Linked DNA regions of Homo sapiens: region 2 is linked to region 1. The links come from fine-mapping of genetic effects on gene expression. A gene starts in region 1. The other region holds a variant in brackets. All regions are shown on one strand. Distances are from middle to middle. Region 1 holds the start of VPS50 (VPS50 subunit of EARP/GARPII complex). Region 2 overlaps VPS50 (VPS50 subunit of EARP/GARPII complex).

What was found. PIP is the estimated chance that this variant, and not a neighbour inherited with it, causes the effect.
Region 2: its variant is fine-mapped to the expression of VPS50 in pancreas (GTEx, PIP 0.95).

Annotation. Positions count from the first base shown.
Region 1 is chr7:93,229,888-93,235,283 of GRCh38, reverse strand. It overlaps VPS50 (VPS50 subunit of EARP/GARPII complex), which reads right to left and starts at 2,918. Exons shown (of 28, transcript NM_017667.4): 1 at 2,784-2,918. The coding sequence starts at 2,816. It also overlaps a transcript of HEPACAM2 not described here. RefSeq lists enhancers at 2,398-2,457, 2,698-2,747, 2,838-3,007, 3,148-3,217.
Region 2 is chr7:93,307,233-93,312,628 of GRCh38, reverse strand. VPS50 (VPS50 subunit of EARP/GARPII complex) reads right to left here. Exons shown (of 28, transcript NM_017667.4): 19 at 3,687-3,805; 20 at 1,357-1,463. Among named protein-coding and RNA genes, the nearest start is that of VPS50, 78 kb to the right of the region's middle. The variant C/T (reference allele first, on the strand shown) is at 2,690.

The sequences.
Region 1 (5,396 bases):
ATCTAACCTCATCCTAACCTCATCTCCCACTACTCTTCTCCTCACTCACTTCACCCACACAGGCCACTTGCAATTTCTCAAACAAGCTCCTGCCTCAGGACCTCTGCATTTGCCTTTCCTTCCACTGGAAATGCTCCTTCCCAAATATCTACCTCACAGAGTTCACTTCCTCACCCCCTTCAGGTTTTTTTATATTACCTTCTCTGTGAGGCCTTCCGTGGCCATCCTATCTAAAATTATAAGTGACCTCAAATCACCAACAATTCCCAGGACTTTCTATCCTCTTTTCCTCTACAGTGTTTATCACCGTGTCTGCCTTAACACTTGTCTATTTTTTTTTTTTTACTTAGAATAGTACCTGGCACAAATTGCTCAATAAACATTTGTTGAATGGACTGAAAGAACAGAGGTGAGCATGATGGAGAAAGATGAAGAACAGATCTCATCTAAATAAAGAGAGCTAACAAAGCCTTCCTTCCTCCCATTATTTTGCAAACAAAGATCCCAGGACAGCTGAAATGTCCCAAAGCTTAAATTTCACAGACCTTAATTTCCTATCTCTCCATATTAACTCAATATATATTATTAGCACATTCTATAGGTTCAAAAAAAGAAATACTTTCATGTATACTTACTTGTAATCCTATTAAATTTAACCCAATAATAAACTGTACTAATTCAAACCCTCAATGTAAATAGCAGGCACACTAATTTCATACCTCATAGATTCAGGAACTGTGCATCAGTATCAAATATGTGAAAGTCAAGCCATAACATATATAATTAGGATAACTTTAAATATGTATGCAAAACTCCTAATTTTACCTCACTTTGTACACAGTATGGTTCCAGCTTTTTGTATGTGTTCTTTAATGTATTTTTTTCCATTTCAATTAAACACAGGTTTGACCTGCTGAAATTCAATAAGCAACTGACTAAGGCTTAAGTGTTACCATTTTCAGCACAATTGCATTACATTTAGGAGACATACACTTATCACTGCTATCTGAAATTTTTTTCTCTCCTCAGTTTTACAAAATGAGGTCAAAAAAACTAAACCAACCACAGCTACCATACAATTATGACAACGTTAACTACACTGAACTGTATGGCAGGCAACAAACTTGAGACAGCATCAAACAGCTGATGCACAAAAGTCCAAATTCAGCATTCCAAAGGCAGTTTAGAGGTATTAGTGATATAAAGTACAAAAGTATATATTGATTTAAAAATCAAACAGGTACCGAAGTCAGCATGAACTTATCTATTGCTTGAATTACTGCAACAGCCTGCTTCCAATTTTCCTGCTTTCCCACCATCAACATAGCCAATGTAACTAACGGTCTCTGCGTTCAAGCACTTCCTTGATAATGCCCAGGAACTCCGTTAACGCCTTAAACTCTTTAACTTCATTATATCATGTAAACACCACTATCAGGCTAACTCCATAAGGCACACATTATTCCTATTTTAAAGATGTGGAAATAGATGCTTAAAAACGTTATGTAACTTGCCGAAAGTCACACAGCTGCCACAGGATACAGCAGGACCCAAACTCATCGTCAAGTAAGAAGTAGTAGGACGCACAACACCAGTACTCAACACATGTGAGGAATTAACAAATGTTACTAGCCACTTACTTAAATATTTTTATTATTCACAGAACATTTTGATTATATTTTCATAACATTAACAAAATGCTCTGACATAACTAAAATAATCATGTAAGGGTCATTTGTGCATTGTGCAAGAGAAATACACAATTTGTATCCTGTTTATATATCTCTCAAATTGTGAATTCTCAAATAAGAATGTGGAATTTGAGTTATTTTTGTAATCAACAAGAAAAAAACTCACAAATATACCTTTCACTAAACGATTACCTTCCACATTCTCCAAACTTCTAAAAGCCATGTTGATTTAAAACTCTAATCTTAACTATCTTTCATATTAAAATAATAAAATGACCAATTCTAGTGAAATATTAAAGCTGAAGTAAATAAAGGCAGCTAAAACAAAGTCATAATCAATAAGTACATAAAAGAAAATTTCTGCACTTCTTAAATGAAGCTGAGGCATTATTACGAGGTCCCTAACATTTATGAGACAGGTTACAAAATAGCCAAAGCTCTTATTCATGAATTTCCATTCTGGGGAAAAAAAAGAAAAGATCAGTATTTTGCCATGACAAAAATAAATTTTTTAAAGCAGAATTTCACAAAGAGTTTTCACATATATTAGCTTATCGATGACCCTCATAACAGAACTGTGAAGTAAAATGAACAAAAATAATTATTTTCACATCCAGAAACGTAAGCTACAAAGTTTGGGGACTTGCCCAAAATCCAAAAGCTACTAATTCTGTCTTCAAATCATCCGTTTTCAGTCTTTCCAGGTCACCTCTACTGCACAGACCACACCACCCTACCCAGGCTATCAGCTCGCATATGACAGACAGCCTGGATGCGGAAGACCTTGCAAGGAAGCTCGGGCTGTTCTGGAAAGACGGCAAAAAGAGGAGGAGGGGAGACAAAGATACCCTGATTCCTTCAATGACTTATTTTTAAACGAATATTTCTGGGAGGCTGGTACCCGCTGGAGCAGTGCTCCAACCCAGGCGGCCCAGGTGAGTTTTCTAGGGTATGCCCCGGCTTCCCAGTCCCCCTGACACCTGCCACCACCCATAACTTAGATCCCCGCCCGCCACTGGTTGGGGACAGAACATCTCGGCTCCTCTCACTTCCGAGATGAAGGAAGCCTTTGCTTCAGCCGCCGCGACTTACCTGTCGGGTCATGAGAGATTTGATTTTTTGCATATCGAAATCCTGAGGAGGGTACCCTGCCTCAAAGAGCTAACAAATCACACCGAGCCACTACACAGCTGGCCCTGACACTAGGAAGCCATAGTGGGTGGTCACGTGGAGGAGCCGACCCAGGGTATCCTGTCTTTCCCTGGGCCTGCTGGGAACTGTAGTCTTCTGGACGCCGGCGGTAGCAACGATGAACTAAAGTGGCCAACCCAGGGACTACATCTCCCAGCAAGCAAAAGAGCGGGTGCTTCAGTTAAGCCGGTAAATATTACTGCTCAGAGCGACCACTGCGATCGCCGGTCTTACAAAGGTGCTTGCACTAGGCAGTAGCTACTCTTCGGCGAGACGGAAACCTAAGTCACAGGTGACTAGGCGTTGAGCGAAAGATCAAACTCAGAGGAGACAATATATAAGCCAGATTGACGCGATGTCCCCTAGGAGTGTGAGGGAGGAAACCTCACCTGGTCTAGAGGGGCGGGGTGGGAGAACGAGAGACTGACGCGAAGGAGAAGGAACTCAAGAAAGGGCTGTCACTGAGGGGTAACCTGAGAACTCGAGACTACCCCGGGCGCGCTGGGTTTGGCCTGAGGAAAGGTGTGCTCTAGGTTGCCCAATAGGCGGCCCTCCAGGTTTAGGGCTGTTCTACCTCAGTCTTGGTATCCCCTGCAAAAGCTCTAAAATCGAAGGATTTTGACGCCCGCCTATTATTTTACCTCCGTACTCTAAAGCAGTGATGACGGGAAATACGACAATAACGAGTATACCTGTCACTTTAAAGTCCTCTTTTCAACTTTTGGCAGTTTAGTTAAATTGGGGAAAGGAACAGAAGTGTCTTTGGGGACACAATTTTAAAAGGACTTTACAATTATGAGAATATGAGAAGAAGAAGAAAAAGCAGCCCTAAAGCTAACAATGATAGCTAACACTTATCGAAAGCCGAGTACCTGTCAGGAACTGCTAATAGCTTTAAATATATGATTTCATTTATCCACACAAGAATCCTGTGGGTTCCCATTTTAAAGATGACGAAGCAGGTATGGCGAAATTAAGGAACTTGCCTAAGATTACTGCAGATGTGCAAGTAGAAACTGAAGGATTAATCGGTCATCAGATGTGTTAAGATTTTCATGTATTGTGCTGAAGAAAGTTCTAAAGCATGGCACCAATTTTTTTAAGTTTATTTTATTATAATGTTAACTTCTAAAAGTATGACACAGACCCATAATTTCAAAAATATTTCTTAGAATAAAAAAAGTTCAAGTGTGTCAACGTAATAAAAAATACTAGGTAAACAATAGTATGGGTGGTAGTCAGATATGGCAAAACTAATAAAGGTGATTTGCAAATGACTGAAGTTTGGGGGACACTAACAGAGGTTATTTCTGATTCTGAAATTCTATTTTCTCACCCCTTAGAGCCTCGTTTTATTAATTTTTACAAATGAGGTTGTAATATTTTAATATTTTATATAGGGCTTTGTAAGGATAAGTGAGATGATGTAGGTGAATGAAATGTATAAATTGTAAAGCACTATACAATTATGAGGTATTATTGGTTTTGATTCTGCCCAGTTCTCTACTCCAACAGAACCACCTTGTGCATACTTGTATCATCACTGCGTTCAGCAATTCCTTTGAAATTATATGTTTACCTATATGCTTCTCTGACTCTGTTATTTCTAACCCCTTCAAGAAATTCTGGTCACATTTAGGGCAAGTCTAGTTTAGTTTATTCTTTACCTTCTCTAATCTTAATTGTCAGACTGTTCTTTGTGTGTGAAAATCTGCAATATTTAGAAGTCCCTGAAAGCATCAAAAGAAACAAAAACTGCCAGCCATATTAGCCTATAAAATAAAACCCAAGTCAATAAACATTTCTTGATTGTTGCGCTCAAGGCAACACTAAAATAAGCACTTTGATTAATAATCTATGGTTGTGGTCACAAGGAGTTCACAACTGGGTTTAAAAGCATATCTTAGGGGTGATCTGAGTTCAGTAGATCTCAAACCTGACTGTTCAGATTCACCTGAGGTGTGTGCTGTTATTATTGTTGTTTTCTTTGGGGATGTTTGTTTGTTTAAAATCTTCAGTGATTCTTAAAGGCAGTCCAGCTCTAGCATGTCAAATCCATGCTGTAAAGATGAGAAAACGTATCTGTATAAGGGTTCGAGACCACATATTTCATGAGAGCTTGATCTAGGACTAGAACCCAGATTCAACCCCGGAATTTTCTCCCTCACATACTCAAATACACAAAGTTAAAGATGATCCCCCCAAAAAGTTTTTTTTATCTAATATGTGTATTTCTATTGGCCAAATTCAGAAAAATGAGTGTTATCCCTATCTATTCGACACTGAAAACGCAAGAAAGTATTGAAACTTTGTTTTACTCCAAAACTCTACATTTTAGTTTATTTCCTACAAACTGGAGAAATGGATAAAAATGGATACAGTCTTCTAAATGTTTTAAGGCTATAACTATAATATTGAAAGCTTGTAAAGTAAATCAGCGCTGGTGTCTAAATAAACTATATTTTCTAATTCAGCATACCTTAACACTATATGAAATAATTGAACCTTACGTTA
Region 2 (5,396 bases), 77 kb before region 1:
GAAAAAAATGCACGAACTTATTCTTCTTGCTTCTAAGGGCATAACTCTTAGACCAAAAGGACAAACCAAAGGCTAGAATCACAGAGAGACAGGTTTTGGTTTACCTTAGGGAAGATACTTCTACTAATGAGATCAGTCTAATGATAGAATGAGTAGTCTTGCAAACCACTGTGTTTCCAATGACTGGGAGTCATGAAACAGAAGCTAGACAGCTACCATGTATGAGAGACATTACAGAAAGACAACCGACTTCATGGCAACTTACACCAATGACCACTCAGCACTCTCCCAATTCTGATTCTACAAATTCTCGAGAGTTATTTCTGACACTATGTTCAGTCAGTTCTCTTGGAAGAAGAAGAAAAGCTTAGCTCCCTGGCAATAATTAGCCACAGAATAGCTTTTTAGAATCTATCCTTTTTTCTGAGCATCATGAAAAGGTATACCTTTCTGTTCTTCTCAATTCAGTAATATTTTTTGCTCTTTCTAGAGAAACCGTGACTCCTAAAAAGCATTCTGTACATTTTATCCTATTCATTAATTAAATTTAAGAATTATCTTAAAGAACACAGACTATTTCAACAGAGCTAAGGTTAATCAAACTAGGCAATAGGTAAATACCATCTCCATAGATAGAATATAGAGATTTTTATGGAAAACCACTAAAATTCCTGCTTGGAACAATGAAGTTTAATAGGAGAAGACATCTCTATAACTTATTTGTCAAATACATAGACTTATTTGTGAGATACAAAGGCTAAAAGCATACAAGATGTTGAAATACTGATTTTAAAAAAATCCACATCATCCTAAAACCTGAATATTTAAAATATCATTTCTTCATATTGTTTGCCTTCTACAAAATCATCAATAAAGGTCTTATCTGTTACAAAAACAACATTTCCTATAATCTGAACATTTAGCTTGTAAATCCCTTGTGTCTGAAAATGCCAGAAAGTCACTATTCACTCTGCCTGACAGAAGATGGTAAAGACCTATGAAACAACTAAGTACAAAAATATTGTATAAATGTGAAACTGGTACTAACTTATCTTACACATACCTCTAACCTACCTAGAGAATTTTTCATCGCATTTCAATTAACTGAAATATTTTAGAAAAATTGTAAGATACAAAGACTTAATAAACAGGTAACTGAAAAAGAAAAACTGGCATTACTATTAGTATTATAGTATTTGGAACATTTAAAATGAGAAGCATTGACATATGATAACCTTAAATCCCTCATTGCATAGAGCACTGGAGTATACAAGACAATAAAAACCACAAGTAAAAGTCATTCGGTAACAAACTAATTTAACTGTTATAATTTTTTTTAAAGGTGTAGCTACTTACCAACAAGTCTTATGACGTTCAATGTTGTATTTGTTAAGATAGGTGCATTCACTTTATTTAGACTGTAATCTGATTTCTTCCTGCTTTTTAGAGTTTCCCGAGAAACACTTGATATGGAAAAACAAAACAGAGTTGCTAGAGTTGTCAAGTAATAAACCAATAAGTTAGTCAGATAGGTCCCTAGCCTTTATTAACTAATTATTTAATGAAAATCTTACTATGCATTAGGTAAAGATATAGAAATTAACTTCTTATAAAATTTACAATCCATAAGGGAAATAAGTAAGCAAAAAAATAAAGTACCATAATGCATTTCTTCGATTATAAAACATTATCAACCACTAAAAAAGCTACATCTCTTTAAAAAACTGATTTTCCAGGATAATAATACATCTAGGTGCAAATGTACTGTTTCTTGATTTCAGAAACTTATGAAAAAATACCCTCCTAAGAACGTGAATTAAGTACAGAATATTGATGGCAGTATTTGGGGTTACGGGGCAGCATAAGGTTCAAAAGAAAAGTAAAAGCTATATGGTCAGCACAGAAAAAAGGGCCGGCATAAAATAGGGTCAGAGATAAGAGAGAACAGAGTGCGCTCAGAAAAGTACAAGGAGTTCACCACGTTCGCATGTAGAAGAAGTGAACAGAGGGAAAAGTGACAAGAAAGGAGGCAAGTAAAGGCCAGATATCTCTGAAAGCAATCAAACCTGAGGGATATGAACCTTATCTTGAACACAGTGGTGAGTCACTAAAAGCTAAGCAGAAAAACAGCATGATTAAATTTGTAACTATGAAAAAAAAAACCCCTAAATTTAGATCTAAGAGTTGTTTGGAATGGGGCAAGCCTAGAGACAAGAATCCAAGGTAAAGGAGTTGATTTAATAATCTGGCACAGAGATAACTTTGGCATAAACTAGAATGGTAGTGGTAAAATACAAGAAAAATTGGTCAATTCAAGAGACACAAGTTAGAACTGATAATATCTATTAATTTATTGGCTTCAGTTACTAATTTGTTCAATTCAAACTTCTTAAGGGTAAAAAGTTTAGGGGGCTCCAGTAACCCTACCAAAAATGGAGGTATATACACATGTACTGGCAGACACTATCTTACTTGTACATTTCAATTCAAATAGACCTTTCCTTTTGGCCAAAATATTCCCAAAACACATCTAATAAAGAATTCCAACAAAATAGTTCTATTCAGTTCACAGTAGATCATGCTGACACTTAATATCATACATACGCAAAAACCAATAGAACAAATTTTTTCAATTAAAATAGCTACAACTACGTGAATTGCTCACTTTTGAAAACAGAATTATTTCAGT[C/T]GAGATTTCAAGTTAAACAGTATTAAATAGGTAGCTTAGGGTTAAACGATAAGAATATACTTATCATTAAGAATCTATCATTAAGAAATCTATCATTAAGCAAAAAGTATATCTATAGTCACTAAATGTATGATAGTCATGAAATCAAGTCATTTTAACATTCCAGAATCAGGCCCATTTAACTGGCAAAAGGTAAGAAAAAATTCTCTTATAATTATCATAGTTTTGAAGAGGTCAGTTTATCATAAAACAAAACTCAACCACTAATAGGACACCTTGATAGAAGGTTCAAATAGTGAACAAAAATGACATAGGGGAAATAAGTGGCGACTTTCTGTGTTTATAAGATTGAAGCAAGAACTCCACATACAAAACAAATGACCATTTTCTCCTTGAGGATTTTTATTTATCTATGTAAAGCATAAATGGCCACCAAAGGCAGGATTGATTTTATAAATCTAAAGGCTTTTTCCTCTGCAAAAACTAATCTCTTTGATTATGCCCAATATTTTCAACAAGATAATAAAGTAATTTTAACAGATTTAAACAAATCACTAACTTTGTGATACCATAAAAAAGGAACTAGAATCTTGCTACAAAAAGCAATGTCAAACAAACTGTATAACTCAAAGGAAAGCTACATTAACACTAGCCACTTAAAAGTTTTTAAATGGCTAAATCAATTTCTTTTTTGACACATTAACAATCCAGTTCACAGTTAGATGAACTGATCTGTGAGATACCAGCAAAGGTTTTGCAAGGCAGAACTTTTCATATAACTATTTTAGTTTTCCTGAAATTCAGTTATGAAATGTTAAGAGGAACAACACATTTTTAGCCTTCCAGGAATCATTTTTTAAAACATACTAACTTCTGTCAGGTGACATTATAAGTACCAAAAAAAATAATTTTTGTTTCTTCTTAACCTTAAAGGAAATCCTATATGTTAAGAGCACAAGATAAAATGCTAAATACCACACAATTTAAGAACAATCACCTTTTCACAGGACCATCTCCTGTCTGCTCATCCACATAGTCTCGTTTGAGTTCCTCAGGAACATCACTGTCACTGTCATACTCTTGATAGGCACTCTTTTCTTGTTCATCAGATTCATACTGAAGAAAACACAGGTTATTAAAAAATGAGTATAAAGGGCCTCTTTTCGTGGGGTGTCTCAACACAGTGAAAGTACTCAGTTTTATAAGAAACAGCTAAATACAAGAAAATTCTTAATTTAGCTTTAATGTTGTCACCAAGAATCTAATTATTCTTCCATTGTCTTCATCATTCTACCTCAATCAGCACAAAAGAAAAATATTACACCTATAAAAGCTTGAAAATGTGCAACAAAATCAAATCGCCATAAACCAAAACCTAACAAACATTCCACTAGGCCTAAAGAGTATACATTCGCATTTTTTTTTCTTAAAGTCTCTCAGAAGTTTCACCATACTTATTTCCAATTTGCTAATAAAACTCATTAAAAAGAGGTTCAGTATCCAATTCTGGCATTCTGGAAGTATTACTTCAGCTTAATAAACACATGCAACACACATGCTGATGTTCTAATTCACTATAAAATTTAATTCCGAGGGCAGCTTAGAAAATTAAGCTTAGAACACAGGGACCTGCTGAGAATGAGGACAAAAATGGTGGATTTACTCTTGAGACAAAGGGTGTCTTCCTAACATTTTCATCATCTTTATGGCACCATGGCCCAATGCCAGCATGGGAAAGACAGTGGAATTCATGCACACAGTAAAGGAAGCAGTGACAGCACTTTCATCATCATCATCATCATCATCATCATCATCATCATCTATTAATGTCATAGATTAATACGATTAAATGGCTAACATTAATATCATTAAGTAATAGCTAACACTGAGTTTTTAACCAAGTATTATGCTAAGTGCTTTCATGAATTATCTCATTTAATCATACAGACACTTCTATGAGGAAGTTTTATCTCCACATGACAGTTGAGGAAACCAGTATGATAACAACATGGAAAGAATTTAGCCCCCTAATTCAACAACTATTTTTTGAGAGTCTGTTAATAAAAAGCACTATGAAAGGTCGTATTTAAATGTGGACCCTGATTCTCAAGGACATAAGTTGCACCTGGAAAGATCAGATCACACATTAATAACTGCAAACAAGCCTTACAGGTACTCCTTTATACTTATACACAATGTGATCCTGATGCTATGCAGAAAGGTATTCTACATAAACTAGGATGTCCTGATTACAACAACAGAGGTTTGTGACCACACCGTATCATAGATACTCATTATTTGAGGATTCAATGTTTGCAAATTTGCCTACTCACTGAAATTTATTTGTAACCCTAAAGTCAATACTTCTGATATTTTTGGAGTCAGTCATAAACGTGCAGAACAGTGAAAACTTTGAGTCATCCAACATGCATGTTCCCAGCTGAATACAAACAAGGCATGCTCTGCCTTCTTGCTTAGGCTCTCATACTATAAACAAGTTTCCTTTTCTTGACCTATTTAGTGCCAAGTGCTTTGTATTTTTGTGCTTTTTGTTGGTGATTTAACTGTTTAGAATGCCACTGCAAGTGTTGCGTTGAAGTGCTGTCTAGTGTTTCTAAGTACAAGAAGGCTGTGATGTGCCTGAGAAACAAAATATGTGTGTCTGATAAGCTTCATTTAGGCAAGAGTTACAGCGTTGTTGGCTATG